Homo sapiens: one gene and its partners. The protein of the gene in region 4 purifies or fractionates together with the protein of the main gene of each other region. This does not show direct contact. Each region holds a gene or a part of one and is shown on either strand. Other genes may lie near its edges.

Evidence for each region.
Region 1: the proteins of TCEAL9 (region 4) and RMND5A purify together in Homo sapiens (affinity purification with mass spectrometry; 4 studies listed by BioGRID and IntAct, with this or other methods). This does not show direct contact.
Region 2: the proteins of TCEAL9 (region 4) and ARMC8 purify together in Homo sapiens (affinity purification with mass spectrometry; 3 studies listed by BioGRID and IntAct, with this or other methods). This does not show direct contact.
Region 3: the proteins of TCEAL9 (region 4) and RANBP10 purify together in Homo sapiens (co-immunoprecipitation; 2 studies listed by BioGRID and IntAct, with this or other methods). This does not show direct contact.

Annotation. Positions count from the first base shown.
Region 1 is NC_000002.12:86,765,291-86,772,290, forward strand, and holds part of RMND5A (E3 ubiquitin-protein transferase RMND5A), read left to right. Parts: intron 1-568; coding exon 569-734; intron 735-4,732; coding exon 4,733-4,835; intron 4,836-6,267; coding exon 6,268-6,422; intron 6,423-7,000.
Region 2 is NC_000003.12:138,218,279-138,225,314, reverse strand, and holds part of ARMC8 (armadillo repeat-containing protein 8), read right to left. Parts: intron 3,390-7,036; coding exon 3,318-3,389; intron 1,927-3,317; coding exon 1,784-1,926; intron 1,680-1,783; coding exon 1,582-1,679; intron 1-1,581. UniProt on the Homo sapiens protein: Component of the CTLH E3 ubiquitin-protein ligase complex that selectively accepts ubiquitin from UBE2H and mediates ubiquitination and subsequent proteasomal degradation of the transcription factor HBP1.
Region 3 is NC_000016.10:67,733,538-67,740,573, reverse strand, and holds part of RANBP10 (ran-binding protein 10), read left to right. Parts: intron 1-2,538; coding exon 2,539-2,561; intron 2,562-5,531; coding exon 5,532-5,716; intron 5,717-5,774; exon of another isoform or gene 5,775-6,025; coding exon of another isoform or gene 6,026-6,333; intron 6,334-7,036. UniProt on the Homo sapiens protein: May act as an adapter protein to couple membrane receptors to intracellular signaling pathways.
Region 4 is NC_000023.11:103,351,961-103,358,970, reverse strand, and holds TCEAL9 (transcription elongation factor A protein-like 9), read right to left. Parts: upstream 2,466-7,010; 5' UTR 2,365-2,465; intron 1,889-2,364; 5' UTR 1,810-1,888; intron 1,357-1,809; 5' UTR 1,287-1,356; coding exon 972-1,286; 3' UTR 509-971; downstream 1-508. UniProt on the Homo sapiens protein: May be involved in transcriptional regulation.

The DNA of each region.
Region 1 (7,000 bases), on a different chromosome or scaffold from region 4:
TAAACAGTTGTAGTTGATAATCACTTACAGGAAAAGTTCTGACTGGCTCTAGACAAAAACAAAAATATTAAAGCCTCTTAGAAGTCAGAGATGTTGCAGATTTTGGAATTCCATATTAAACTTAGAGGAGATGTGAGAAAGAGCAAGGTGTGCACTTGCTCTTTTCCACCCCCACCTGGCTGTATGCTGCTGCTCTTGCCACAGCAAAGTGTCAGAGAGCCAAGGTGGCAACTGTCAACCCCACGAAACTGTGTAGGAAACATTAACTCTGCAGTCAGAGATAATGTGATGACATAATTGTTACTTCTCTAGGTAATGGTAATTATACTATGCTGTAGAGAAGAATTTAAATTATAAGTTCAGTATTTTCACTGCTTTCCTTTTCTTCCCTTTTCTCTCCATGCTGTTTAATTTAGGATGAAGGAAGAAACCAAGCTTAAGGACCAGAATTTTAAAAGACCTGTTAATACATTATTTTAGGCTGTATCAGTATGGGTGGGGGTATTCTTGCTTTTCGCAGCTTATTACTGCAAGCAAACTAATGCTTTCTTGCTGGTGCTTTTTTTAGACATTCAGGTTTTGATGGGAAGCCTTGTGTACCTGAGACAAGGGATTGAGAACTCACCATATGTTCACCTACTTGATGCAAACCAGTGGGCTGATATCTGTGACATCTTTACACGGGATGCTTGTGCCCTCCTGGGGCTCTCCGTGGAGTCCCCTCTCAGTGTCAGGTATGGAAATTAGCCCTGTCTGTTATTGAAGTATGCACTGCATTATCACCTTCCCTTAACTTGTTTGGTTCTTGATGTTTAAAGCCAAAATAACTTTTGTCTTTCCAAAGAAGAGTGCAATTGGTATTTCAAAAGATATCACAATTGGCAGTGATGCTGTTTTAGAGAAGCAGTTTTGAAAGTGTGGTGTATGAACCTCACAGGATCCTGAGAGCCTTTTCCACTGTATTGACATTAGTACAGATGGTCCAGAAACAGTGGTGGACTAAACTGCTAGAGCCTTAGCACAAGTTGGGGCGGTGGTACAAACTCCACGAATAGCTGGATTCCTCACCACCACACACTTGCAGTTTAAGAAATGCTAGTTTTACTTAACCACGTCTGTAATCTCAGCATTTTAGGAGGCCTAGGAGGGTGGATCACGAGATCAGGAGTTTGAGACCAGCCTGGCCAACATAGTGAAACCCGCCTCTACTAAAAACACAAAAAATTAGCTGGACGTGGTGGCGGGTACCTTTAATCCCAGCTAGTCGGGAAGCCGAGGCAGAAGAATCGCTTGAACCCAGGAGGCGGAGGTTGCTGTGAGCCAAGATTGCACCATTGCACTCCAGCCCGTGCAACAATGCGAGACTGTCTCAAAAAAAAAAAAAAAAAAAAAGAAAAGAAAAAAAGAATATTCTTGGCCTGGTGTGGTGGCTCACATCTGTAATTCCAGCACTTTGGGAGGCTGAGGTGGGGGGAATCTCTTGAGGCCAGGAATTCAAGACCCACCCGGGTAACACAGCTAGACTCCATTTCTACAGAAAACTTTTTTAAAAAAGGATGTTCTTGGTGAAACATTAAAATTATTAGTTTTATTAAATCTTGACCTTTCAGTACACATCATCTTAATAATTTGTATGACAAAATAGGAAATCCACATAAAGCACTTCAGTTTCATGTCAAAGTATGGTAATTGTCTTGAGAAAAAGTATGTTGTTTTGAGTTATGAGCTAGCTGGTCACTTTTTTTCATGGAATACTTGTTTTGTTTGTTACTTGTTTTTTTCTTGCTTTTTTGAGATGGAGTCTCCCTCTGTCCCCTGGCTGGAGTGTAGTGGCGCAATCTCAGCTCACTGCAGCCTCCACCTCTTGGGTTCAAGCGATTCTCCTGCCTCAGCCTCTGGAGTAGCTGGGATTACAGGCGCCTGCCACCACGCCCAGCTAATTTTTGTATTTTTAGTAGAGACAAGGTTTCATCATGTTGGCCATGCTGGTCTCGAATTCCTGACCTCAGGCGATCCACTGCCTTGGCCTCCCAAGGTGCTGGGTTTATAGGCGTGAGCCACCGCACCAGCCTTGGAATAGTTTTTACTTGGAAGAATCATTAACATAGTTACGCACACTCAGGTTTTTGGCAGTCTTTTTTTTTTTTTTTTTTTTTGTCTTTTTTCTTAAATTTTTAAGACATTCTTGCTATGTTGTTCAGGTTGGACTCAAACTCCTGGGCTCAAGTGATTCTCCTGCCTCAGGCTCCTGAGTAGCTGGGAGTACAGTTGTGTGCCACATCACCCAGCCATTTTTTTAAGTGAACGAAGCAAGCCTGTCACATTTGAAAGGTCTTAATTAAGTATGATTTTACAAAAGCATGCATGAGTAAAAGAGTCATTCAAAGTACAAGACAGACAAATGGATTTTAATGTAGCAGGGTACAAAAAGTTTAATGGTAAAGTTTCAGATTCTGCTCTGCAGCGAACCTTTAGAAAACTACTACCTGTTTTGGCCAAAACTATGAAAAGTCAGTTTTCGTGTGGTATTAAGGAGGAGTATCCACAATGATCCAAAGTGATCAAAGTAGTACTACACATATGTGTGAAACAAGGTTTTTTTTCATTTACCTCAACCAGAAGAACGTATCACAATAGATTTAATGCAGAGTAAACTATAAGAATCCAGCTGTCTTTCTGTTAAGGTAGGCATTCAGGAGAGTTGTGAGAGTTTGGAACAGTGCCACTCTTCTCACACATATATTTTTGTTTTGGAAACTGTAGTTATTTTTTTATAAGAATGTTTGCAATAATGGCATGGTATTTTATTTTTACATGAACTAATCGGCACCTTTTATGTTTCTCATTTTAATTTCTAATGTATTAAAGATATAATCCACAAAAAGAAAAGCTCTTTGAGATCCTTAATACTTAAGCATATAAAGGGGTCCTGAAACCAAAACATTTTAAGAAACTGTTGTAAGAAAATAACTCTTTTTTAGCTCTTCTATTCATTTAATTCCACAAATGTTTTGCATACCTGCTATGTGCCAGGCACTGTGGGCACTGTGTTGGATATGAAGATGAATAAGGTGCATTCCACAGGGTGCTCCATCCTAGCGTAGGAGTGGACAGATGCAATTAGCTATAATGTGAGGCGCTGATGCCATCAAGTTCTCTGAGGAAGACTCTAAAGTGGGAATGTACATGCAGAAAGTTTACTGACATCAGCACCTGTGGGAGAATGAAAACAGCAGGATTGGGCAGAGAGGAAAGTTGGACTGTATTAGAGTGGCAACAAGGTGTCTCCCATCCGTGAGGAGCTCTGGAGCTGCTGTGGGCCCGTGGAGTTGTCCCAAATTGGGCCTATAGGGCTGGGGTTTTGTACCCTCACATGGAGCAATTGCTGGATGTGACTCTGGTCAGATGACTCTCTTCAACTGAGGACAGTCCTGAAGAGACGGACACAGCTGAGAGTTGGCTGCCAACACTTCCAGATCTGAGAAATGAGTGCTTCCACCCTGGACAGGGGTGATCTGGGGATAAGAGGAACTATGCAAAAAAAATGTTTCAGGAGCAAGCATGTCATTTGACTGATAAGCTGAGCCCATTAAATCCAGTTGTTTTGTGCAATATAAAACCTTTTTTGGCACTAATGTAAGATTATTATGAAATTCTTTATATTTTACTTTTTGAAACAGGGTCTCATTCTGTTGCCCAGGTTGGAGTGCAGTGGCACGATCGTGGCTCACTGCAGCCTCAACCTCCTGGCATCCTCCCACCTCAGCCTGCTCAGTAGCTGGGACTCTAGGCACATGCTACCATACCTGGCTAATGGCTAATTTTTATATCTTTTGTAGAGACGGGGGTCTCACTGTGTTTCCCAGGCTGGTCTCAAACTCTCAAACTTAGGTAATCCTCCCACCTTGGCCTCCCAAAGTGCTGCAATTACAGGAGTGAGCCACCACCATCTGCTGTTATTAAATTCTCTAAAAACCTTATTCTCAATTCTGTACTTCTTTCCTGTGGATTGAAAATGGTGTGTAAATCAGCACCATCTGCAGACCACATTTTGAGTATCATTGTTCTAATTAGCGTATACCTTGGAGCACATTTTGTAAGAAAAATAAGTCTGGTGGTATATGGTCTGTAAGGAAGGGAATAGGAAAGGAAGTTATGTCTTGTATATTGCTGAGTGAAGAATTTTGTGCAAGAACATCTCTTTTTCCTTCAAACTCAGATGCTAAAACTACTGTATTTGGAAGAGTGTAGTAGTTCTTAATTCCTGCTCTTCATTTGAATTAATTGGTTCTCCAAAGCTGCTTTCTTTTTTAAAATGCATGTTTTAAAACTTTATTTTTCTATTTTCTGAGGAAGTAAGCTAAAGTTAAATTACCCTAGCAGATGAGTTTTTTTTTTTTAACGTTTGCGTTCTTTAACTGCATTTACCCCCATATTGGTGAGGTTTATTTAGAAAATTTAGAGTTTTATTTTTTGTTTTGTTTTTTAACTGGGATTGGTTTTCAGTAACTTCAGGAAATATACCAGTGGGCCTGGGGAAGAAGGGGAGGGAAAACAAGTTATTTCTCTTCTAGTGGAAATGGCTGGATTTACTTTTAGCAGAACAGAAAGCTCTCACCCTGTCCAGTGGCCAGGGTCTGCAGCACATAGAGTCTGGAGAAATTGATGTCTCCTTGGACCAAGCGGCCTGACCCCTGGCCTGGCACTGACGTTTCCTCTTCTGCTCTCCCAGTTTCTCAGCAGGTTGTGTGGCGCTGCCAGCTTTAATTAACATCAAAGCCGTGATTGAACAGAGGCAGTGTACTGGAGTTTGGAACCAGAAAGATGAATTACCTGTGAGTTCCATTTTCTATTGGCTATTTACTTTTACTGCCATTAGAAGAATATGGCATCTTTAAATGTTCATCTTACCTTTTAACCAGGAAACATTGTAGCCATTTGACAGGAGTTCTTTTATGGATATATAAAAGATTAAACAATACAAATGAAGAGCCTAGTACATTTTGGGGACCCTGGAGGAGGAGTATTATAATTTTGACTTGAAGTGCCTTTGAAAGCTGGTGAAGGGAAACATCAGAAGTGGGGAGGGCTGTACATACAGTAGCAGGCAGTGTGTTCTGCAGTGCAGTTCACAGACCACTCCTGTGATTGTTTTTCTAATATAAACGCAAATTTAATTGGTTTTACTTTTGTCTTAACTATTGCTGTCGATAAGATCACGAGTTTGTGCTGGTTACATTTGCCAATAGAATAAGTATAGAGCTCTTAAAGGTCGTAACACCTGCAGTCATCAGTGGGTCTCTAGTACTGTATTTCTACTGCTCTCATGGAAAGGACCATGGTTTTAAACATCAGCACGATCACTTGCCAACTCTAGAACTTCTCTAAGCAGTAGTGTATTCATCTCTAAGACAAGCACCAGCTTTCTCTTTATGGGGCTGCTGAAGGCTAGAGATAACATAAGCATGCTTAGAATAAGACGGGATACATGGTAGGCACTCAAATTGTGGCTGCCATGGTGCAGTTATGATGTGAAGTGGCGAAGGTCATTGTATGTATGTTTCCACCAGGTCTCTGACAGGCACTGAGGCTCTGGCCTGGAATTGTCGTTCCTGTCATGATTGTGTCACAGACCCTGAAAAGCTAACATACGCATTTGTTTTTTTGCCCGTTTTATACCACACCTGTACACGGGTTTATTTGCAGTTACCTTGTTCTTCCAGCAGGTAACCCTGTCAGTTGGTTGCCCCAGCTTCTCCTCAAAGATCTTTTCTGATTAAAGGCACAGGTGCAGTCCTGGTCCTGAGTGTGGTCAGGACACAAGTAGCACTCCTGCTCTACTGCCGCTAACTTGAACAAGTGAAAAGAACTTGAGCCTTCACTTGTTTTGTGGAGGCAGGTGCCTGGCATCTGGCAGTTTCCCATTTATGTTGTAAGCATCTCTGACATGCACTAAGAGCAGACTGAAATCTGAATTCACCTAAAGACTGTGTGTCAAGCCAGTAAAGCCATTAGAGGTGGTGATCAGGTCATTGTTTGTCAGACTTGTTTTTACACTTTGTCAGCTTTCTTGAAAATAATCTTGAAGGCTAATTTAACACTTTGAATCACTAAGACTGTCCATCTGAGTTAGAAGAGTGCTATAGAAAGTTACATTCAGGTGAATAGATCTGATCAATGTTCTTTGCTGCACAGTGTATATTACCATGTGGATGGTTTTGTGAAATATGACTTCAGCTTTTTTACTTTTTTTTTTTTTTTTAACAGATTGAAGTGGACCTTGGTAAAAAGTGCTGGTATCACTCTATATTTGCCTGCCCCATTCTTCGTCAGCAAACAACAGATAACAATCCACCCATGAAATTGGTCTGTGGTCATATTATATCAAGAGATGCCCTGAATAAAATGTTTAATGGTAGCAAGTAAGTGTCTGACTTTTAAAAAATGTTAGCAAATAAATTTTGTTTTGGAACTTGGTAGGAGGATAAGAAGTGATGAGGATTAAAAAAATGTAGCTAGATTTAGAACTAAATAAATTTCTTAACTATTCATTTGGCAAAGTTGGTGGTATCTGATTTGAGTATTTTTAATGTGTCTATGGATTTGGTGATTAGATTTATAAGCATGTCTTTAACTTAACTTTTGGGGTAGGTGATAGATTTTCCCCTTTTTTATACAAATGGTCGCATACTAAAAAATGTTCTGTACTTTGCTGTTTTCACTTAGTGATGTATTTTGGAGATCTTTTTCTGTGCTGCAGAAACAGCCCTCATTATTTTTTTGTTAAAGCTGCAGTATATTCTACTGTATAGAAATATGATTGGGTAGCCAGTTCCCTATTGATGAACATTTGTTTCTCTAAACAGTGCTAAGTGAAGGCCAGGTGTGGTGGCTTATGCCTGTAATCCCAGCACTGTGGGAGGCCGAGGCAGGCGGATCACGAGGTCAGGAGATTGAGACCATCCTGGCTAACACGGTGAAATCCCATCTCTACTAAAAA
Region 2 (7,036 bases), on a different chromosome or scaffold from region 4:
ACATGGTGAAACCCCGTCTCTACTAAAACCACAAAAATCAGCTGGGCGTGGTGGCACATGCCTGTAGGCCCAGCTGAGTAGCTCGGGAGGCTGAGGCAGGAGAATTGCTTGAACTCAGGAGGCGGAGGTTGCAGGGCCGAGATTCCTCCACTGCACTCCAGCCTCGGTGAGAGAGACACCGTCTCCAAAAAAAAAAAAAAAAAAAGCCAGAAGAAATGAATTTGGGCTGAGCACGGTGCCTCATGCCTTCCTCTCCACTTCTCTAAGTCTTATCCATTATTCAAAACCCAGATTAAATTCTAGCTTCTCTGCAAAGCCTACTCTGCTGGATTTCAACCGAAAGTCAGCTGAACTCCCTATCATTCATCTAGCGTAAAATAAACTTAAGTTCTACATATAGAGAGATAAAAATGGGTCTTTTTAAAAATAGCTTGTAAATTCCTCAAAGTCTGAGACTATCTTTCACTTTCTTACAAAGCTGAGAGCATCTGATATTTGGAAATAAGAAAGAACTCAAATACTTTTTGAGACTTTATTTATGTACTTATTTAGAGACAGTCTCTAAAAGCAGACAGTCTGCCCTGTCGCCCAGGCTGGAGTAGGGTGGTGTGATCTCAGATCACTGCAACGTCTCCTCCTGGGTTCAAGTGATTTTCATGGCTCAGCCTCCCGAGTAGCTGGTGTTGCAGGTATGTGCCACCGTGCCCGGTTAATTTCTGTAGTTTTAATAGAAATGGGAGTTTCACCGTGTTGGCCAGGCTGGTCTCGAACTCCTGGCCTCAGGTGATATATCCATCTTGAACTCCCAAACTGCTAGGATTACAGGCGTGAGCCACTGTACCCAGCGGAGACTTTTATCATTTTTTATTTTTAGTGAGAGGATCTCATTCTGTCACCTAGGCTGAGGTGCAGGGGCACCATCATAGCTTAGTATAACCTCAAACTCCTAGGCTCAAGCAATCCTTCCACTGCAGTCTCATGAGCTAGGACTATAGGCATGAGCCATTGCACCAGGCTAATTTATTTTTATTTTTTTCTTGTAGAGATGGAGTCTTGTTGTCGGGCGCAGTGGCTCACACCTGTAATCCCAGCACTTTGGGAGGCCGAGGCGGGTGGATCACAAGGTCAGGAGTTCAAGACCAGCCTGGCCAAGATGGTGAAACCCTATCTCTCCTAAAAATACAAAAAATTAGCCGGGTGTGGTGGCACGCGCCTGTAATCCAAGCTACTCCAGACGCTGAGGCAGAGAAATGCTTAAACCTGGCAGGGTGAAGGTTGCAGTGAGCCGAGATCGCGCCACTGCACTCTAGCCTGGGTGACAGAGCAAGACTCCACCTCAAAAAAAAAAAAAAAAAAAGAGATGGAGTCTTGTTATGTCACTCTGGTTGATCTTGAACTCCTGGCCTCAAGCAATCCTCCCACCTCAGCCTCCCAAAGCACTGGGATTACTGGTGTGAGCCACCATGACCAACTGAGACTTTTTTACATAACACAGTTATGATGAGTCTGAAGATGCTAAGCAAATTAGGAGTAGGCTGTTGGTGAAATGTAACTAATGTCTCAAATACATCTAAAACTCACTGTATACAGTAGCTCCTCTGGAGTGACAGGACTGGTGAAGATGGTACGCAGGCATCGGAGGCAAGCTTCAATAAACTTCAGGTCTGGGGACAGTAGTCCTATTAACAGAAATGAGATTTAGGACTAATCCTTTCAACCAGTATTTAAAGCACTGCAAACTGATTCTTAACCTTAATTGAGCAAAAATGGCTTCCCTACATACCTTGCAATAAGGCAGGGATAATATGGCAGTCCAGTAGAGACTTGACATTGTTTTCAGTACCCATAGCAAGACTTCCCAACACCACTGCACATTCAGTTTTCAGCTCTGTGCTTGAGGTTTCTTGCTGAAGCAAGTACAACAATCTAAAAAGAAGGAACTTAATAAACGAAGAGACTAAAAAATTTAAACAAGACTCAATGTGACCAAAAAAGGCTGTGCAGTCCACATACTAAAAATATGGTTGGCTGAGTTTATATGAATCCAATGGTCATTTGTTTATCTCATCTGCTAATTAAAGAAACATCTGGAAAAAAAATCTAGAAGAGGTTTTGAAAAAAAGAACTATCATATTCTTAGAGTTTATAAAAAGTGTAAATCTGAAAGTTGTCCACAGATAGTCTCTGTAGAAACAGCGTCATCAGAGTCCATGTCATCTACCACTTCCTGCTGGGTCTCCAAAATATGAAGACTCTCAAATGCCATGTGCTGCCAGATCTTAAACTCAAACTAGAAATGCTACTGCTCTGAATCCAGAGCAGTGGTGCAGTTTGTAGATATCGAGCCTATAGGGAATATTCAGAGCCCTTGTGCAGCTCCTCAAGCAAAGGTAGTTTCTTCTTTCTCCAGCTCTCTCATTTGGAAAAGGAAGAGATCCTCTCATTTCCACTCCAGCCCAGCTTGCCAAACAAATACTCCCCAAACCCTAACCTTCCTCCACTTATAACCATCTACCTTATGTTCTAAGACAGGACCCTCATGCTCCATAAAGCACTATTTATATATACCAAACATAAATCCCCTAAGAAAGGCTGCTGACAGCTTTATAGTTACTAAAGTATATGTTTGAGGTTGGTGAGTTAAAACACTTAAACCATTAATTCTGTATCAAAACCAGAAAATAAGGAGAAAAAAACAAAATAATAAATAATTCTGAATGAAAAGCTAATAGCAATTGCACAGAAAACTTAGCTCTGAGGAGCAAAAGTAAAGAGGAAGTTATGTAACTGTCATTGCCTGCCTAAAGGAAGCTTATTAGGTCATCAAAAGAAGAAATTAAACTTCCTAAACTTCTTACGTTAACTTAAAAAACAGCAAGTTGTAAAAATCAGAAGTTAAAAAATGAAACTGGATTAAAAATCAAGCAGGGTTTTTTTCCTTTAAATTCAAAAAGGTCTTAAGGCTCCTAATAAATTACCCACTCACACAAAAAACTGCCAAGGCTCTAAGGAAATGGAGAAGAAAGTATCAGGCTGTTGTACATTGCATATGTACTTTACGAACCCTTTTGTCATCAGGTCAAAGGTCTTCCTGAGTTTCCAAAATGTATTAACACATTCACTTCTTACTACATTCTCTGTTACTTTATAATTTTTTTCCTTAAAGATAGTTTAAATACTTACATTTATTTTTAAAAATAGGATTTATTTTAAGAATTAGACAGACAATACAGGAAAAATGGGTTCTATAATTGAGAGTAAGAAATACATTAGAAACTAGTATGAATGGCAAGAAAGGGGTGAGACAGCAAACATACCTTGGAACAGCTCCTAAAACAATGAGATTGGCTTTCTGCTTGTTGTTTCCAATTACAGCATTTTTCATGTCTCTGAATTAAGGGGAAGAAAAAATAAAGTATGTTGAGACAGCACTGAAGAAAAATCAAAGATCATTCTACTTCATTATGCAATATCTTAGATTTGACAAAGTAAAAGCACTAACCTTTTTTCACCTAAAGTACTAATGAAGGGATAGAGATAGGTGCAGAGTGAATGTGGGGGCTGTAAAACGGCGTATTGTAGAAAGTGAGAGATATCCTGAGTACTGGCGAAAGACTTCCAGTACAGAATTGAGTTCTTCTAGAAAGGGTACCTACCAATACTTTGGATACAAAGGAATACAGGCCACCCTCACGCTCAGCTCTAAGAGTAGGGAGTGAGTTAAACGAACAACAACAACAACAGAAAAAACAGCCCACAGAACATTAACTCCTTGTTTCAATGATCACACTTTGTTCACTTTTTTTTTTACTTCTTTATATATTATTTCTTACAATTCCATTTTATCTGCTTTATTGTCTTACTAACTGTACTCCTTTGTTATTTTCCAATGCATCTTTTAATTTATCACAGTCAGTCTTCAAGTGATATTAGCCCATTGCACATGTATTTTAAGAGCCTTGCATATGTATTTCCACTTTCCCATTCATTTTTTGGGCTGCTGTTATACAATATTTTTAAATTGCTTAGAAACAACATAATACATTGTTACTATTTTTGCTTAAGCAGCCAGTTATCTCTTAAGGCGATTTAAAAAATAACAAAGAATCTTTTACATTTCTCAGATATTCACAGTATTTTTTATTCTAGCTATACAGAGCTCTATACTTCACCAGGAGCAAAACTCTATTCCACAATAAGAGAACCTCTACCACTGATCACTTGGCTCACAAATTTGTGGTTGGTTCAAAAGGAAATGTAGAGAAAAAATAAATAGCTCAAAATAAACCCAGTACTACTAATAAAATGTTTAAAAAAACTTCCCTGGCCGGGCACGGTGACTCACACCTGTAATCCCAGCTCTTTGGGAGGCCTAGGCAGGCAGATTGCTTGAACTCAGGAGTTCAAGATCAGACTGAACAACATGGCGAAACTCCATCTCTACAAATAATACAAAAATTAGCCAGGTGTGGTGGCACGCACTTGTGGTCCCAGCTACCTGGGGGGCTAAGGTAGGAGGATCACTTCAGCTGGGGAGGTGGAGGTTGCAGTGAGCAGAGATCGCGCCACTGCACCCCAGTCAGGGTGACAGAACGAGACTCCATCTCAAAAAAAAAAAAAAGAAAAAAAAATCAACAAATAAATGTTATAGTCAGCATACATTTCTAACACCAATCATATTTACTGGCATTAAAGAACCTGGTAACGATTAACCCTTGTCTTCAATTGCCTTTTTTGATTATTGCAGAAAAATACTGCAACAACTAGTGATGTGCTAAAAGCAGATTTTCCCTACAAGTTTCTGAATGGCATTTTTACAAGTCAAGCCAAATACTGAGAATGCCTGGTCTTTCTTCCATTAGCTCAGTGCCTGAGGGTAGGGCTTTTTTTCCAGGCCTGACCTATCCCTCTGTAAAGTATCCCTCAGATCTTCTATATGGTTTACAAGAAATAAGTAGCAATTTTTTTGTTGTTGTTTATGGGACTGAACTGAATGAAGTTTACTGAGGTTGTTAGCAAGTTCTGATACATGAATATAAAACTATATGATATCAAAGGATCAATTAGCAAAGTTAAAGTTAGTAAGAGATTTCTAAGCTCCCGCATCCTCATGGATGCCTGTTTTCTTTAGAGGCTTTAGTTCCTAATCATCAGCATATGGACCTTAACCTACCAGCTTGTTGTTCACTTTCATTGTCTTCCTTTCTCTTAATGTGTTCTGCCTATACTAATGTAGAACATTCATTTATCCAGCCCCTACCTACTTAGAGTCTGTGTAGGCTAAGTGCCATTCTGAATGCTTTCTATTCCAGAACTCCCAACCCTAATATTTCCCCAGTTTTTCCTCTCCATTCTTCTTAAGCAGAAATGAGCGGTCCCTAACATTACCAAATGAACCCATTCCAAACATCTCAAACCATGCCATGTTTTTACAGACAAGAGCAAACAAAAACCTGTCCAACACCAATTTTCTAATTCTCTTAATAGTTTACAAAAAGGACATGAAGGAGGTAACTGATGGCAACAGAGGAAATGCCAACTAAAGAGAACACAATACAATGGAACAATGTCTAAAGAAAAAGATTCTCGCTTTGGCTTTAGTAAGTAAATATACCTGTGCTAGATAAGGAAAAAAAGATGTTAATAAATTCTATTCAATTGTTGCTATAAAGGAATGTTAATAGATCACTTCCATGAAGAATTAAAATCAAAAGGATTAACAGGATTAAGCAATCAATTTCAGATGACAACATTCAGCCATCTAGATGAAGCTTCTTTCAGTTCCCAGAGTGTAGTTATTCTTTCTCCGTCATCTCCTTATCCCCTCCCTCATACTTTCCCCTGACTAGCTTTACTCATCCTTCAGGTCTGAATGTCACTTCCTCAGGAAGCATGCCCTGAAACCCCCAGGTCATCACTTTGTTAGAGTAAAAGTCTATCTCCTCCTGAGAGGCAAGAAAGCCAATCTGACCTGGAAATATCAAAGCAGTTACTGTCAGTAGATCATTATTTATAGTGATTCTAGATATCCATTATTTTTGTAAAATGCAAACTCACAGCTATCATCCAAGATGGGAACACAACAACACTATCCAAGATTTCTACATTACTTTCAAATTTACAAAGCATTCCATATCCACTACTTAATTTCATCTTCATCATAATCTAGAGTAATATTAACTCCATTTTACAGAGAGAAAGCTACAACTCAGGATTGGCCTTTTTTCAGAACCCAATATTAAATGACAGAGCCAGTCTCAACCCATGTCTTTTATGCCAACTGTTTTTTCCATTATGGCCAGGACATCAGACATTGACAACGAACCAATGGAAAAGACAAATGAATTCAGTGAATTCATTTTCTTTTTCCTTCTGTGTTTTAATGTTACATTTTTATGCAAAATAAAAGTGTTTCTAACTTTTAGTCAGATACCCTTTTCCCAGTAGACCAAAAGAATGTCATCTCATGCCCACTAACTTTTAATGTTGGGAAAAATGCTCTACTTACTTTTACTGAAATTCAACAACTAGTTTTTGAGCTCAGCATTGTGCTAGCCTCTATGAAGTATACGAAAGTATCACACAATGGGATGCCTGGTCTGAGGAGTTCACAATATCCGTGGAGTGGCAAAAATAACACTATCAATGTAAGTCAGTACTAAATTAAAAACTGAATGTTTATAAGGTAAAGAAAAGTAGATGCTCAATAAGCTTAAAAGGTTTTGAGGCAATGGTTAAGAACTAAGATAAACCTTAGACAATAGTCAGGACTTGGATAAGCAGATGGGAGGACAAAAGGAGAAATCGTTCATACAAGACCATATTGGAAATGAAAATGGCATGTTCCTGGGGCAATACAAGGAGCCTGAACTGAAAAACAAGTTCGCTTTAGGGTGGCATGGAACATAAAGTTAGAAAAGTGATAGGGAGATGAGACAAACTAAAGGGAGATGGATTAAGGAGCAATCATATTTTTGATCACAGAAGGGGCATGAAGGAAGCAGTGACTAAGGAAAATAAGCTGAATGTGAAATGG
Region 3 (7,036 bases), on a different chromosome or scaffold from region 4:
AGACCTGTTGTCAGACCCAAAATAGAATAGACCCTGTTCTATTTTGCAGGGCTTCAGTTTCTTTTCTGGGCAGGGGTTGGATAGCAGACTGGAGATCTCTAAGGAATCAGCAGTTTGAAAACCTCAAAGGCCAAAAGCTCAGGAGCTTCTGGGAGATATAAGACTTTATCTGCCGGGCATGATGGCTCACGACTGTAATCCCAGCACTTTGGGAGGCTGAGACAGGCAGATCATGAGGTCAGGAGATCGAGACCATCTGGCTAACACGGTGAAACCCCGTCTCCACTAAAAATACAAAAAAAAATTAGCTGGGCATGATGGCGGGCACTTGTAGTCCCAGCTACTTGGGAGGCTGAGGCGGGAGAATGGCGTGAACCCGGGAGGCGGAGCTTGCAGTGAGCTGAGATCACACCACTGCATTCCAGCCTAGGGGACAGAGCAAGACTCCGTCTCAGGGAAAAAAAAAAAAAAAAAAGTGTGAACCTGGGAGGCGGAGCTTGCAGTGAGCCGAGATCACGCCACTGCACTCCAGCCTGGGCGACAGAACTAGACTCCGTCTCAAAAAAAAAAAAGACTTTATCTAAAAAATGAGAGGGCTTTGAGTCCTTGGAGAGCCTCCACTGGTCCTGAGTCATTTGTCATTTCTCAGTTTGAAGAACATGGGTGCTCTGGTAGCCTGCTTATATAGTTGTGGTCCCACTCCCCTCTACCCTCACTTCCAATTCAGAGCTGAGGTCCCTAGAAATGCAGCCACTTCTCTTGGCAGGAGGGTTTTTGACAGGCTGTTTTTTGTTTTTGTTTTTTTGGGACAGGGTCTTGCTCTGGCACCCAAGCTGGAACCCAGTGGCACAATCATACTAGCTCACTGCAGCCTCAACCTGCAGGGCTCAAGTGGTCCTCCTGCCTCAGCCTCCCAAGTCGCTGGGACCACAGCTAATTTTATATATTTTGTAGAGACGGAGCCTCGCTATGTTGCCCATGCTGGTCTTGAACTTCTGTTCTCAAGAGATCCTTCCACACAGGCCATTGTTAACCTGAACTTTGCCAGCTTGGAACCTCTGAGGACTCTGACTGCGTATGGACTGGAGATAGGCAGCTGCCACCCTCCCTGTTTCCACTTCTCTGTCAGCTTGGGGATGACATTGAAGCATTGGACTAGGAACAAATCCAGCCCCACCACCTTTGCTAGCTTTATGACTACTGGCAAATTGTCGAACCTCTGAGGCTTATTTTTCTCCTTTGTAAAATGCAATAAGCCTGCTTCCCAGAGTTGGTGTGAGGATCAGATGAAGTAATGGATGGAAAAGGGGCGAGGTGCGGTAGCTCACACCTGTAATCCCAGCACTTTGGGAGGCCGAGGTGGGCAGATCACTTGAGGTCAGGAGTTCAAGACCAGCCTGGCCAACATGGTGAAACCCTGTCTCTACCAAAAATACAAAAATATATATTAGCCGGGCATGGTGGTATGTGCCTGTAGTCCCAGCTACTCGGGAGGCTGAGGCAGGAGAATTGCTTGAACTCGGGAAGCAGAGGTTGAAGTGAGCCAAGATTGTGCTACTGCACTCCAGCCTGGGCGACAGAGTGAGGCCCTTCTCCAAAAAAGGATCTGGCATGCACAATAAGTTTCCATAAATATGTGTTAAATCAAGAGAAGTATCAGGTCTGAAGGGCCGCAGGGGATAGATCTTTTGGATTTAGTTCCCCTTAGCAGGCTTTCTTTGCGGGTGGAGGAGCTATGCACCTGCCTAAGCATCTGATTTCACTTCTGGCCAGGCCGCCAGTGAAGAGAAGGCCATGGTCTAATTAAAACTACCTAGCCCGGGGCCGGGCTCAGTGGCTCACGCCTGTAATCCCAGCACTTTGGGAAGCTGAGGTGGGCAGACCACAAGGTCAGGAGATCGAGACCATCCTGGCTAACATGGTGAAACCCCGTCTCTACTAAAAATAGAAAAAATTGGCCTGGCGTGGTGGTGGGCGCCTGTATTCCCAGCTACTCGGGAGGCTGAGGTAGGAGAATGGCGTGAACCGGGGAGGCAGAGCTTGCAGTGAGCCGAGATCGCACCACTGCACTCCAGCCTGGGCGACAGAGTGAGACTGCATCTCAAAAAACAAAAACAAAAACAAAAAAACCTTCCCAGCTGGACACAGTAGCTCATGCCTGTAATCCTAGCACTTTGGGAGGCTGAGGCGGGCAGATCACTTGAGGTCAGGGGTTCAAGACCAGCCTGGCCAACATGGTGAAACCCTGTCTCTACTAAAAATACAAAAATTAGCCAGGCGTGGTGGTGGGCACCTGTAATCTCAGCTACTGGGGAGGCTGAGGCCAGAGAATTGCTTGAACCAGGAGGCAGAGGTTGCAGTGAGCCAAGATCGTACCACTGCACTCCAGCCTGGGCTACGGAGGGAGACTCTGTCTCAAAACAACAACAACAAACCAAAAAAAACAACTACCCGGCCCTAGCACTGGCTCCACCATGGGGTGCAGAGGCAGAGTAGCCCCAGGGGCTGGCCCTGATGACTGTTCCTTTCCCCCCACAGGTATAGCCTTCACAGACCTCCCGGTGAGTACTACTATTGAGTCTTCCCCTCCTGGGTTTCTGGGGGCTGACTGGGATGGGGCACGGTGGTACCTGCAAGTGCAGGGTGTGGAGTCTGGTTCTTTCCCCAACCAGGGATGTGTGCCATGCTGTCAGCTTGAGGGTACCAGGAGGGGCACTTGCTGGCCTTCCTCTCTCTCCAGCAGTAAGGTCTGGTCTTCCTACGACTCTTAGCAGGTGACAGTAATTTGTGGCACTTCCAAAGGCAGCTGTGGGGCTGGGGCGGGTAGGGTGGTGGAATGAAGATAGCTCCATGGCTCAACTGGTCTAAACCAGCTGTGTGTCAGCTGGGGTGCAGAGTGTAGGGAATTGTTCCTGAACTGTGAGGGAACCTAGTCCTTGTACATACCCATCAGAGATCCCTGAGGAAAGTTAGTGCCCTAGGGGAACTCATCTGCTACTATCTAGGGCACCCCCAAGCCAGAGAGGTGAGCTTTGTGGGGTCTTCTCTTCTTAGAAAAGGATGGAGTTTTCTGGCCGGGTGCGGTGGCTCACACCTGTAATCCCAGCACTTTGGGAGGCCGAGGTGGGCAAATCACGAGGTCAGGAGATCAAGATCGTCCTGGCTAACAGGGTGAAACCCTGTCTCTACTAAAAATACAAAAAAAGTTAGCCGGGCCTGGTTGCAGGCGCCTGTAGTCCCAGCTCCTCGGGAGGCTGAGGCAGGAGAATGGCCTGAACCCGGGAGGCAGAGTTTGCAGTGAGCTGAGATCGCACCACTGCACTTCAGCCTGGGCGACAGAGCGAGCCTCCGTCTCAAAAAAAAAAAAAAAAAAAAAAAAAAGAAAAGGATGGAGTTTTCTGCTTGCTTAGTTCAAAAAAAAAAAAAAACAGAAAAGGATGGAGTTTTCTGCTTGCTTAGTTCAGGGCATATCCTCACCTCCAGCCATCCCGCACCTGTACTCCAGTCTCTATTATGAGTCATCACAGGCCTAATCACATGCAGGGCCTCCACCCAGGATGCTGGGAGCCTGGCCTGGCTCTGTGTGTTCTGGTTAGGTTCTGGAAGGAAGGAAGGTTTGCTGACTCTGGTGGCTGCTTTGGGATCCCAAACACCCCAGTGATGCCCCAGGAAATGCCTTTGTGATCTTATGGGCCTCTGAAGCCCAGACCATAGCACCCAGGGTCCTGTTAAAACCTCCAGTCCATGGCTCAGAATCCTTCCCTCTTACCTGGAAGCCCCAGAGAGGGGCTGTGGTCCTAGGCAAAGAGAACAGAATCAGGTGGAGAATGCTGACCCTGGCTAGGGAAGGGTCTAGTTATGGGGACGTGACATGAAATGACCAGGCATGAGCATGGCCAGTATGCAGCCACATGCAAGAAGGTATGGGGGAAAGACATGGTAGGCAGTGACGGTCAGGAAGGCTTGCTGGAGGAGGCGGGCCTTGCCTGTGGTGGAGGATGGTAGGGGAAAGAAAGGAAGCGAGAGGTCCTCTGTGTGCAGAGCCCATGGTGGGCTGAAGCCAGCATACAGGAAAAGGTCCCATACCTTGTGCAGGTACAAAAATGCATGGTTGGCCAGGCGCGCTGGCTCACGCTTGTGATCCTAGCACTTTGGGAGGCTGAGGTGGGCAGATCACCTGAGGTTGGGAGTTCAAGACCAGCCTGACCAACATGGAGAAACCCCATCTCTGCTAAAAATACAAAATTAGCCGGGCGTGGTGGCGCATGCCTGTAATCCCAGCTACTCAGGAGGCTGAGGCAAGAGAATTGCTTGAACCCAGGAGGTAGAAGTTGCGGTGAGCTGAAATCGCGCCATTGCACTCCAGCCTGGGCAACAAGAGCGAAACTCCGTCTCAAAAAAAAAAAAGTGCATGATACTCAGGAAGGAACATGGCCTGAGCACGGAGGTGAAGGGTGGACTGAGGGCCCTGGGAAGACCATCTGCAGTGACAGTGGGGAGGAGGCTAGCGAGGCTCTGGACAGTTGCAGTGGGGAGCCACAGGAACCACCAAGTGAGGGAGGGACCGAACAAAAGCCAGTCATGGTAGAGGCTAGGTGGAAAGCAGGGAGCCTCACACCCTACTGGCCAGAAGATCCTCTTAGCGAGCCTCTAACAGGAAGGGTAGCTTCTCTTCACCCTTTGCCAGCACCAGGGGTCTAGACCACCGGTTCCCTTTTGCCATGTTCCCCTCCTCCCTCCTTTCCTGCGTCATCCCATCTCTGCCTACCCCCCATGTATCTATCTTTTGGTTTGTTTTTTTTTTTTCTTTCTGAGACAGGGACTCACTCTTGTCACCAAGGCTGGGTTGCAGTGGCAGAATCACAGCTTACTGCAGCCTCAATTTCCTGGACTCAAGCCATCTTCCCACCTCAGCCTCCCGAGTAGCTGGGACCACAGGTGCATACCACCACACCTGGCTAATTTTTATCTTTTTATTTTTTGTAGAGACAGGGTCTCACTTTGTTGCCCAGACTGGTCTTGAAAACCTGGGCTCAAGCGATCCTCCTAAATTGGCCTCCCAAAGTGCTGGGATTACAGGCATGAGCCACTGTGCCCAGCCTCATGTGTCTTATTTTTTTTGAGACAGAGAGATCCTTGGCCCTGGATCTTTCCAAGAGGAGCCATGACCCACTATTGCAGCAGACCTTCATGGGCACGTCTGAAGGGTCGTGGAGCCCAGCCCATTTCTGTATGCTTTGGCTGAGTTCCAGAAAGGGCTCTTGGGCCTTGAGGACACAATGGCCTCTGATACAGGGCAGGACACTCTCCATGATGTGCCTTGCTTGCTTTTCTTTTGCTTTCTCCCCTCAAGCTTTGGGGCATAATGTCTCTGCTAGGGAGGTGGACAGAGGTGGCTCCGCCCTGCCTCCTCCAGCCTTGCTGCAACTCTCCCAGCCCAAGCATGGGCCAGCAGCAGCCATGGAGGTGAGGTGAGGCCTTAGAACCCCACTGCCCTCAGGGCCTGACTGACATTTCATTCTCCTCCTCAGGCCAACCTCTACCCCACCGTAGGCCTGCAGACACCTGGGGAGATTGTGGACGCCAACTTTGGGCAGCAGCCCTTCCTGTTTGACATTGAGGACTACATGCGGGAGTGGCGTGCCAAGGTCCAGGGCACGGTCCACTGCTTCCCCATCAGTGCCCGGCTTGGCGAGTGGCAGGCAGTGCTGCAGAAGTGAGTGCCCTGCTCCTGCCCTTACCCACTCCCACCCCACCCCAGCCCACTTCACTCTAGGCCCCTGTAGGGCTACAAGCTGTTCTTACAAATTCCAGCGGGTGGATCCTTTCTGGGAAGCATTCCCAGGGCCATTCAGCCTGCAGCTCTCCTGCTTCTCTGTCGTCGGATGGACAGCTCCCACCGAGTTCTCCGGGCTGCTCCTAATTAAACCTTTGCCTCTCAGCCATATTGGAGGCTCCTGTATATAAGATCACCAGCAGGGCTGTTTTCCTTCCCCAGGTCATTTTGCAGAGGATTTTGCAGAGGATGCCCTGTGGTCTCTTCCTCTGTGGACCCTTTTTCTACCATAGGGAGTATCCATGGTGCTGTGACTCTGGCCTGAGGCCACCTCACAGGGCCCAGCATCCAACTGAGTCTCATTCGTCTATAGCGGTGGTGGAGGGAAGGGAGTTCTCCCTAGGACCAGCTGAGCTAGCTCCTTGGCTGATTAATTCCCAGACTGTCCTGGAAGCCAGTGTCGCTGAACTCCCAAGGGAGGCCAGCTTTGGGTTTCTCTTCCACTTGCCATCTGCAAGCCTGAGTGAGGCAGTGACCAGTATCCACTCTGCCAGGAGGTGGGTGTTAGCTTGGCTCTCAAGGATGGGCAGATGGGCATGGGGAAGGGCTGGGCTTCCACTGCCTGTGGTCATTGCCCTGCAAAGGCACCAGGGTGCTAGGATTCCTGGGGTGGGGTTGGGGTACACACTGAGTTCTTTGTGCAGCCTTTGTCCCTTGAGGCAGGCCCCAAGGATGGGCTGAGGCAGGGGCTAGGTGGCCAGACCTTCCCCAGGAAAAACAGCATTGCTGCCTCTTGTTCACAGCCCCCCAGAGCAGATGACAAGGACTTCCTTGGATGGCCAGGACAGCGCCACTCCCAGAGCAGGCTTGGTGGGATTGCCAAGAAGAGGGGTGAAGATGCCAAGTCTGTGTAGGGGAGGAACTGATACTCTCAGTTTTCAGGGCCTAGGCTCAGCACATGGATGTGTTTTTGTTTTGGGGTTTTTAAAAAAATACTGAGATGGGGTCGCACTTTGTTGCCCAGGTTGGACTCCTGGGCTCAAGTGATCCTCCCACCTCAGCCTCCTGAGTAGCTGGCATCACAGGCATGTGCTACCATGTCCAGCATAGCACATAGGTGTTTTTGTTTACATGTGTGTATCCATGTGCTTGTATGTGTTCATATGTAGCATTTGCCAAGACCTGCATATAATTTGTGTACTGTGGTTTTACATAACTTCATTTAATGAATATTGATAATGGCTATGTTATCACAGAGAC
Region 4 (7,010 bases):
CCATTCTCCTGCCTCAGCCTCCCGAGTAGCTGGGACTACAGGCGCCTGCCACCATGCCCGGCTAATTTTTTGTATTTTTAGTAGAGACGGGCTTTCACCATGTTAGCCAGGATGGTCTTGATCTCCTGACCTCGTCATCTGCCCGCCTTGGCCTCCCAATGTTGGGATTAGAGGTGTGACCCACCGCGCCCGGCCTTGGGTTTGTTCTTAATCACAGATAAGAACTACTTTCTCCACCCTTCCAAATCGCTGAAATTAATCTCTTACGGAGTTGGGATGGGAACAAAACTCTGTCAAACATAGCTCACAGTCATTACTCTATTTGGCCCTCACCAGATCCTTGTGAGATTATTTTCTTTATTTTAAAGATGAGAAAATATGTAAAATTTATTATTCTAGCTAAGTGGTCTGGAGTTACTTTCAAGTTCACATTTCTTCTAAAATTCTGTCAACAAATATTAAATGCCCCAATACTTTTAGAAATAAACTAATACGTGCTGCTTGTTGCTTCTTTTTTATAAAACTTTTATTATTCTAGCAATAATAATGTGTGTTAATTTTAGGAATATAGAAAATACAAACAAGCAAAAGGAGAAAAATCATTCATAATCCCACCACCGAGAGGCTGTACTTTCTTTCATCCTTCACAAGTTATGTCCATATATGTAATATACAAATGTACTTTTTACCTTTCAAAAATATGATATTCACATATTACTTAGCCTTTTTCCATTTTATATCTTACCAAGAACCTCTTTTTTACAAATGTGTAAAGTTCTTTTATTAAAAGACAGAGACTTGTAGATTGGTTCAAAATACAATAAACAATGAGATGCAGATAACAAGAGATACATCTAAAACCATTAATAGCAACAGGTTATAAGTAGAAATATGGACAAAGGAATATCAGGAAATGCTAATAAAAAGCAAGCTATATGGTATTGTTAATATCAGATAAAAATCAAGGTAAACTACATTAAATAGGGGTAAGGATGGTTTCGATTAACCTTCCAACGCATCACTATAAGTTTGTTTCTGACTCTCCTTATCTCATCTATTTCATCCACTTCTCTAAACATATCTTCATTGCTTAAATGCCTGTTGTGTATATCTTCTTTAAACTCCTGGAGAGATTGAATCAGCCTTTCTCTAAAAGTTCCTTTTGCTTTGGCCTCCTCCTCTAGCTTCTCCTCCTCTTCTGGCTTTTCCTCAGGCTTTGGCTCTTCCTCATGCTTTGGTTCACTCTCATTTTCTGGTTTTCCTTCCATTTTTTGACAGGATTTCATCTTGTATCTGTCTACCTCTCTTCCTTCCTTCTTTTCTTTCTTGCTTATTCTTCTTTGAATACAATGACTTCTAGAAAGCAAAAAGAAGACAGTAAGTTAAAGACTTGGTGAGTGGACAGGTGCTGTGGACAGAGGCCTTAGCATTTAATTTTTTTTATTCAGAGCTGTTATAAAATATCTTCCACCTAAGAAGCCCAGTCAGCAATCAGAGCTTCACTATCCCCACTCCTTTTACCTCCACTTTCCACCTCCTCACTTCTCTCTTGTCCTTCCCTCTAACCTTTTCCAAGGCCCTCCTTTCCGCCGTCCAGCCCTCCCCAGACCTTTTTCCCCCATAGGGCCTAACACAGGGACCAGGCCAGAAAAGAGAAAGGTGGCTGGCAGGCAGAGGAAGAGGGGAAAGGAGAAGGGGGAGAGAAAAGAAGAGGGGAAAGGGGTGGGGTGGAAGGGAGCCGGCAGGAACGGTGGCGCTTACAACCTTTGTCTCCACCCCAGGAGACTTTATAATATTCCTCTCACCTACCTGGCACTGATCGGGTCAGTTTCTTCCTCCTCCTTTTCTAGCTTTGGGTCTTGCTGGAAACAACAGCCCTGCAGATAAACTGGAAACGGGAGGGGACGGTGGGGGTGGGGCGAGCGCTTGGTGGGCCGACCAGCGCCAGAGACTGACACACGTAGCTTTCCTCCTTTAGGGTTTCGGATATGGAAAGTTTCCCACCTTTTGTTTCCCCTAGTTCACCCCCTCTCCACAGTGCATGCAAGTCAGTTCGTTTTTCCCATCAGACAAAGAGTGAGAAAGCAGATTATTTCCAAACTATCTTTAAGACTGAGGCGGGGTTCGGGAGGAGGGTGGGGGTCCGGAAAGCAGTCTTAGATAGCAGAGGATGATTATTTTTAAACTACCACAGGTCTCCCTGTTCTTCTCCTAGGACCCCTAGTCCCTTTCCCAAGGGTCATCAGTTCCCGTAGACCTGGAGGTGGAGGGTGGAGGGACGGACCTGACCGGCACTCCCACAAGTCTCTGCCTTAAACCCCCCCACACTAGAAATCCCCAGTCAACACCTACAGTGACACCAACCTGCAAAATTCCCGCAAGTTTGACTCCTTCCACGGGCCTCAGGGACCACCGCCTGCGCTGCTGAAGGAAGCTGGTATCCAGACGGGAACAAGGACCAGATTACCAGGACTTCTGCACACGTCGACTCCTGGTCACATGAGATCTACGTCACCAGTGAGCTCGGGTCCCTAATTTCCACTCCCACCAAAAGCGCGGCAGAAGTGGGCCCACCCTCTCTCCCTCCCCGCCCCCCACTTATACATTTGGCCCTGTCAGTCTTTTCTGTTGTTTCCTATCCCAGCGGGAAAAATGTTATTTGCTTGACTCTGATTACTAGGGAGGGGCTACCTCTTTTTCTGGAGCTACTGAACTTTTCTACTTCTTTCGAGAATTGTCTCTTCCATTCTTCCACTCCCAGGATAACTCCTCCATCAGTCGTCCCTCCTCTAGCCTCCATTTCCTCTGCAATCTGGTTCTTAGCTGTTGTAGAGCAGGGTGGCCTTGGCAGCAGTTGTGAAACAACAACAAAAAAAGACCCTGGAACAAGAGTGAGATTTCTGAATGCAATTTTTACTTTTTATTTTTCGTACTTCTATATCCTTTTTAAAAAGGTAACTTTAATCTCTCTCTCTCTCTCTCTCTCTCTTCTTTTTTCTGTCTTTCTTTCTCTTTTTTTTTTTTGAGACAGGGTCTCACTCTGTTGCCCAGGCTGGGTTGCAGTGGTGCGATCACAGCTCACTGCAGCCTCAAACTCCTCGAAACGAGTGATCCTCTTGCCTCAGACTCCCAAGTATCTGGGACTACAGGTGTGTGCCACCATGTCCAGCTAGTCTTTTAATTTTTTTGTAGAGACAGGGTCTATGTTCCCCAAGCTGGTCTCGAACTCCTGGGCTCAAGTGATCCTCCTGCCTCAACCTCCCAAAGGGCTGGAATTACAGGCCTGAGCCACTGCACTGGGCAACTTTTATCTTTTTATAGTCAGAAAAGACAAAGAAAAAATTACTTTAATGACATGAGTTAATACATGTACAGTGCTTATTGTACATGTGGCATATAGTAAGTGCTTTTAAAGTGAAAGCTGTTGTGATATTAGAAGTTTTGTGAGGAAAATGATACAGAATTTTTTAAAAAAGAGTAATGTTTCATTCCAGAGTCCTCATGGTGGTGTTACCAGGAAGCTGTGCTGCCTGAAGAATCATCAATTAATCGTCAGGTACACATTGTGAACCTGAGTTTCCTCATCTGAAAGAAGGGAATAATAGCATATGCTCATAGAATTGAGATCTATTGAAAATAAAAATAAGAGTTAATTTTTCATCTGTACAATTAGAAAAGACAAATATTGATTATATTCAGAGTTGATGAGCATATGGTAAAACAAATATTCACATGTACTGTGAGACTATTAAGTAGTACAACATTTTTGGAAGTCATTTTGGCAATATCAAACTTTAGAAGATATGTGCTTTTGGACACATCAATTCCTCTTCTAGAGATTTATCATACATTAATACTCCTATGCCAAATATGGTCATTGTAGTAGTTGTGGCAATAGTGTTTTTTTTAAAGAGCCAAAAACTTATATGTTTCTAAAAGGAAATTGGTTTAAGAAAAGTTTGATCATTCATATAGAGCCACATTATACAGTGATGAAAAAATGATGTGGAGTTACATTTACTCACATGAAAAAAATTGTTCAATGTATATTGTTAAACAAAAAAAGGCAAATTGAAAGTTAATTTTATATGTGGTATTACATTTTTGTAACAGTATACATATTTGTGTATTTAAAATATGAGTATACAATTAAATTACATGATAACATGATAAGTGAAGTCCAGAAATTCATTCTATAAAATTCCAGGTTATGTTACTGAGAGATGGATGGATGGAATGACTGATGTGAGTCTATTTGGCTAGCTGGCTACACAACCCAAATTCATCAAGGACTCAGCTGTGATTTGTTGCCACAAACAATTCTTCACTGAGCACTTGGACTTAAATATCATCCATCCATTTTACTCTCTCCCCACCTGCTATCACCAATCATGTTATATCCAAACTCAAGTTGTTTCAGGGTCTTACTGTATTTTTATATCATTAGAAATGCAGATGAATATATCCTGAACATCATAGGATATACTTGAGAATGTGTATTTCATATAAAGAGAACTTTTATTTTCTAAGTGTTGTATTTATATATTTAAATTACTAATAAGTTACACAAATTAATTCAAGATGGATTAAAGACTTAAATGTTAGACCTAAAACCATAAAAACCCTAGAAGAAAACCTAGGCAATACCATTCAGGACATAGGCATGGACAGGGACTTCATGACTAAAACACCAAAAGCAATGGCAACAAAAGCCAAAATAGACAAATGGGATCTAATTAAACTAAAGAGTTTCTGCACAGCAAAAGAAACTTCCATCAGAGTAAACAGGTAACCTACAGAATGGGAGAAAATTTTTGCAGTCTACCCATCTGACAAAGGGCTAATATCCAGAATCTACAAAGAACTTAAACAAATTTACAAGAAAAAAACCACCCCATCAAAAAGTGGGCAAAGGATATGAACAGACGCTTCTCAAAAGAAGACATTTATGCAGCCAACAGACACATGAAAAAATGCTCATCATCACTGGTCATCAGAGAAATGCAAATCAAAACCACAATGAGATACCATCTCACGCCAGTTAGAATGGTGATCAATAAAAAGTCAGGAAACAACATGCTGGAGAGGATGTGGAGAAACAGGAATGCTTTTATACTGTTGGTGGGAGTGTAAATTAGTTCAACTATTGTGGAAGACAGTGTGGCGATTCCTCAAGTATCTAGAACTAGAAATACCATTTGACCCAGTGATTCCATTACTGGGTATATAACCAAAGGATTAGAAATCATGCTGCTATAAAGACATATGCACACGTATGTTTATTGTGGCACTATTCACAATAGCAAAGACTTGGAACCAACCAAAATGTCCATCAATGATAGACTGGATTTAGAAAATGTGGCACATATACACCACGGAATACTATGCAGCCATAAAAAAAGGATGAGTTCATGTCCTTTGCAGGGACATGGATGAAGCTGGAAACCATCATTCTCAGCAAACTATCACAAGGACAGAAAACCAAACACCGCATGTTCTCACTCATAGGTGGGAATTGAACAATGAGAACAGTTGGACACAGGGTGGGGAACATCACACACGGGGGCCTGTCGGGGGCTGGGGGCCTGGAGGAGGGATAGCATTAGGAGAAATACCTAATGTAAATGACAATTGATGGGTGCAGCAAACCAACATGGCACATGTATACCTATGTAACAAACCTGCATATTGTGCACATGTACCCTAGAACTTAAAATATAATAATAAATAAATAAATAATAAGTAATATATTAATTACTAATATTCAGAAAAATGTTTGAGACAAAAGTGAAAAATGAAGAAGAAATAAAATATCTGACAAATATTAGACAGCCATGTATCTATTGAAATGAAAATTTTTATAGTATATTGCTATGTAAGGAAAAAGCAGGTTATTAACAGTAACAGTATTAGAATTAGGTATGATTGGGTGGTTGGTGGGCTTATGGATGATTTATATGTATTTTTTTACTTCATTGTAGACTCTTCTACATTTTCTCAGGGGGCATATGTAACTTCTACAGTAAGGAAATGTCTGCAAATAGTATGATTTTATTTTATGGCACATATTTCATATACATACTTCTCTGTAGCTGAACAGGGTCTGAATTAAGGGACTCCACTACCTGTTTGAGACTTCAGATCCTTACGATGGTTGAATCCCTCACATTTCCTTCCCTTGCTCCGCTGACCTCCTCAAAGGACTACATGTTTGTAACTAGTATGCATTAGAAATGAGGGTCTCTTCCCCTTCCTCTGACTATCCCTCCCTTCAATCAAGTTTGAGATGGTCAAAGTGTACTACTACATTTTTAACATGGGGAAGGAGGCATCTCTTTCTTAAATTTGACCTGATGAAAATATTTTCTAGGGAAATATTTTTGCTAGAGAAAGTAATACTTATGGCAATAATATAATAGTTTAAGCAGATTATAAAATAGTATTCTTAGTTGCCAATTCAATTCTTTAAAAAATATGTATGAATAGAAACAGAAAGGATCTGGCTCTGCTTGACATGTGGCATGTATCTATAGTTACCTTACTTTTTTCCAGTAAAAATGTTTTATTTTTTGCAAATAAAGAAAATAACTATTATTTAAAAGCAGGTTATAAATAATGTATATAAAACTATCCTAATTATACTTAAAAATACATATAGGAGGAAGGAAACCCTCAATAATATACACTCAATTTCATTTATTTGGTGGCTCTCAAATATACACTTCATCCACTTATTGGTTTCACAAATATTAATTAGGCGATCACTAGATGTTGTCAGTCTAAACCCTTATGTCCTTTCTGTAGATTTCCTCTCAATTATCACTGAATGTGTTAGTGCAGTGGAGTTGCATCTTAAGCCAAGGATGGATTCTAAAGTCAGCATATAAGGTAAAATCCTACCTAGTCAAACTTACCTACTTCATAGCATATTACTATAAGTTATAATGTTAGTGGGGAAAAAATGAAAATATTTAAACTTAAAATTAAACTCCCATTTAATTTTATGGGAA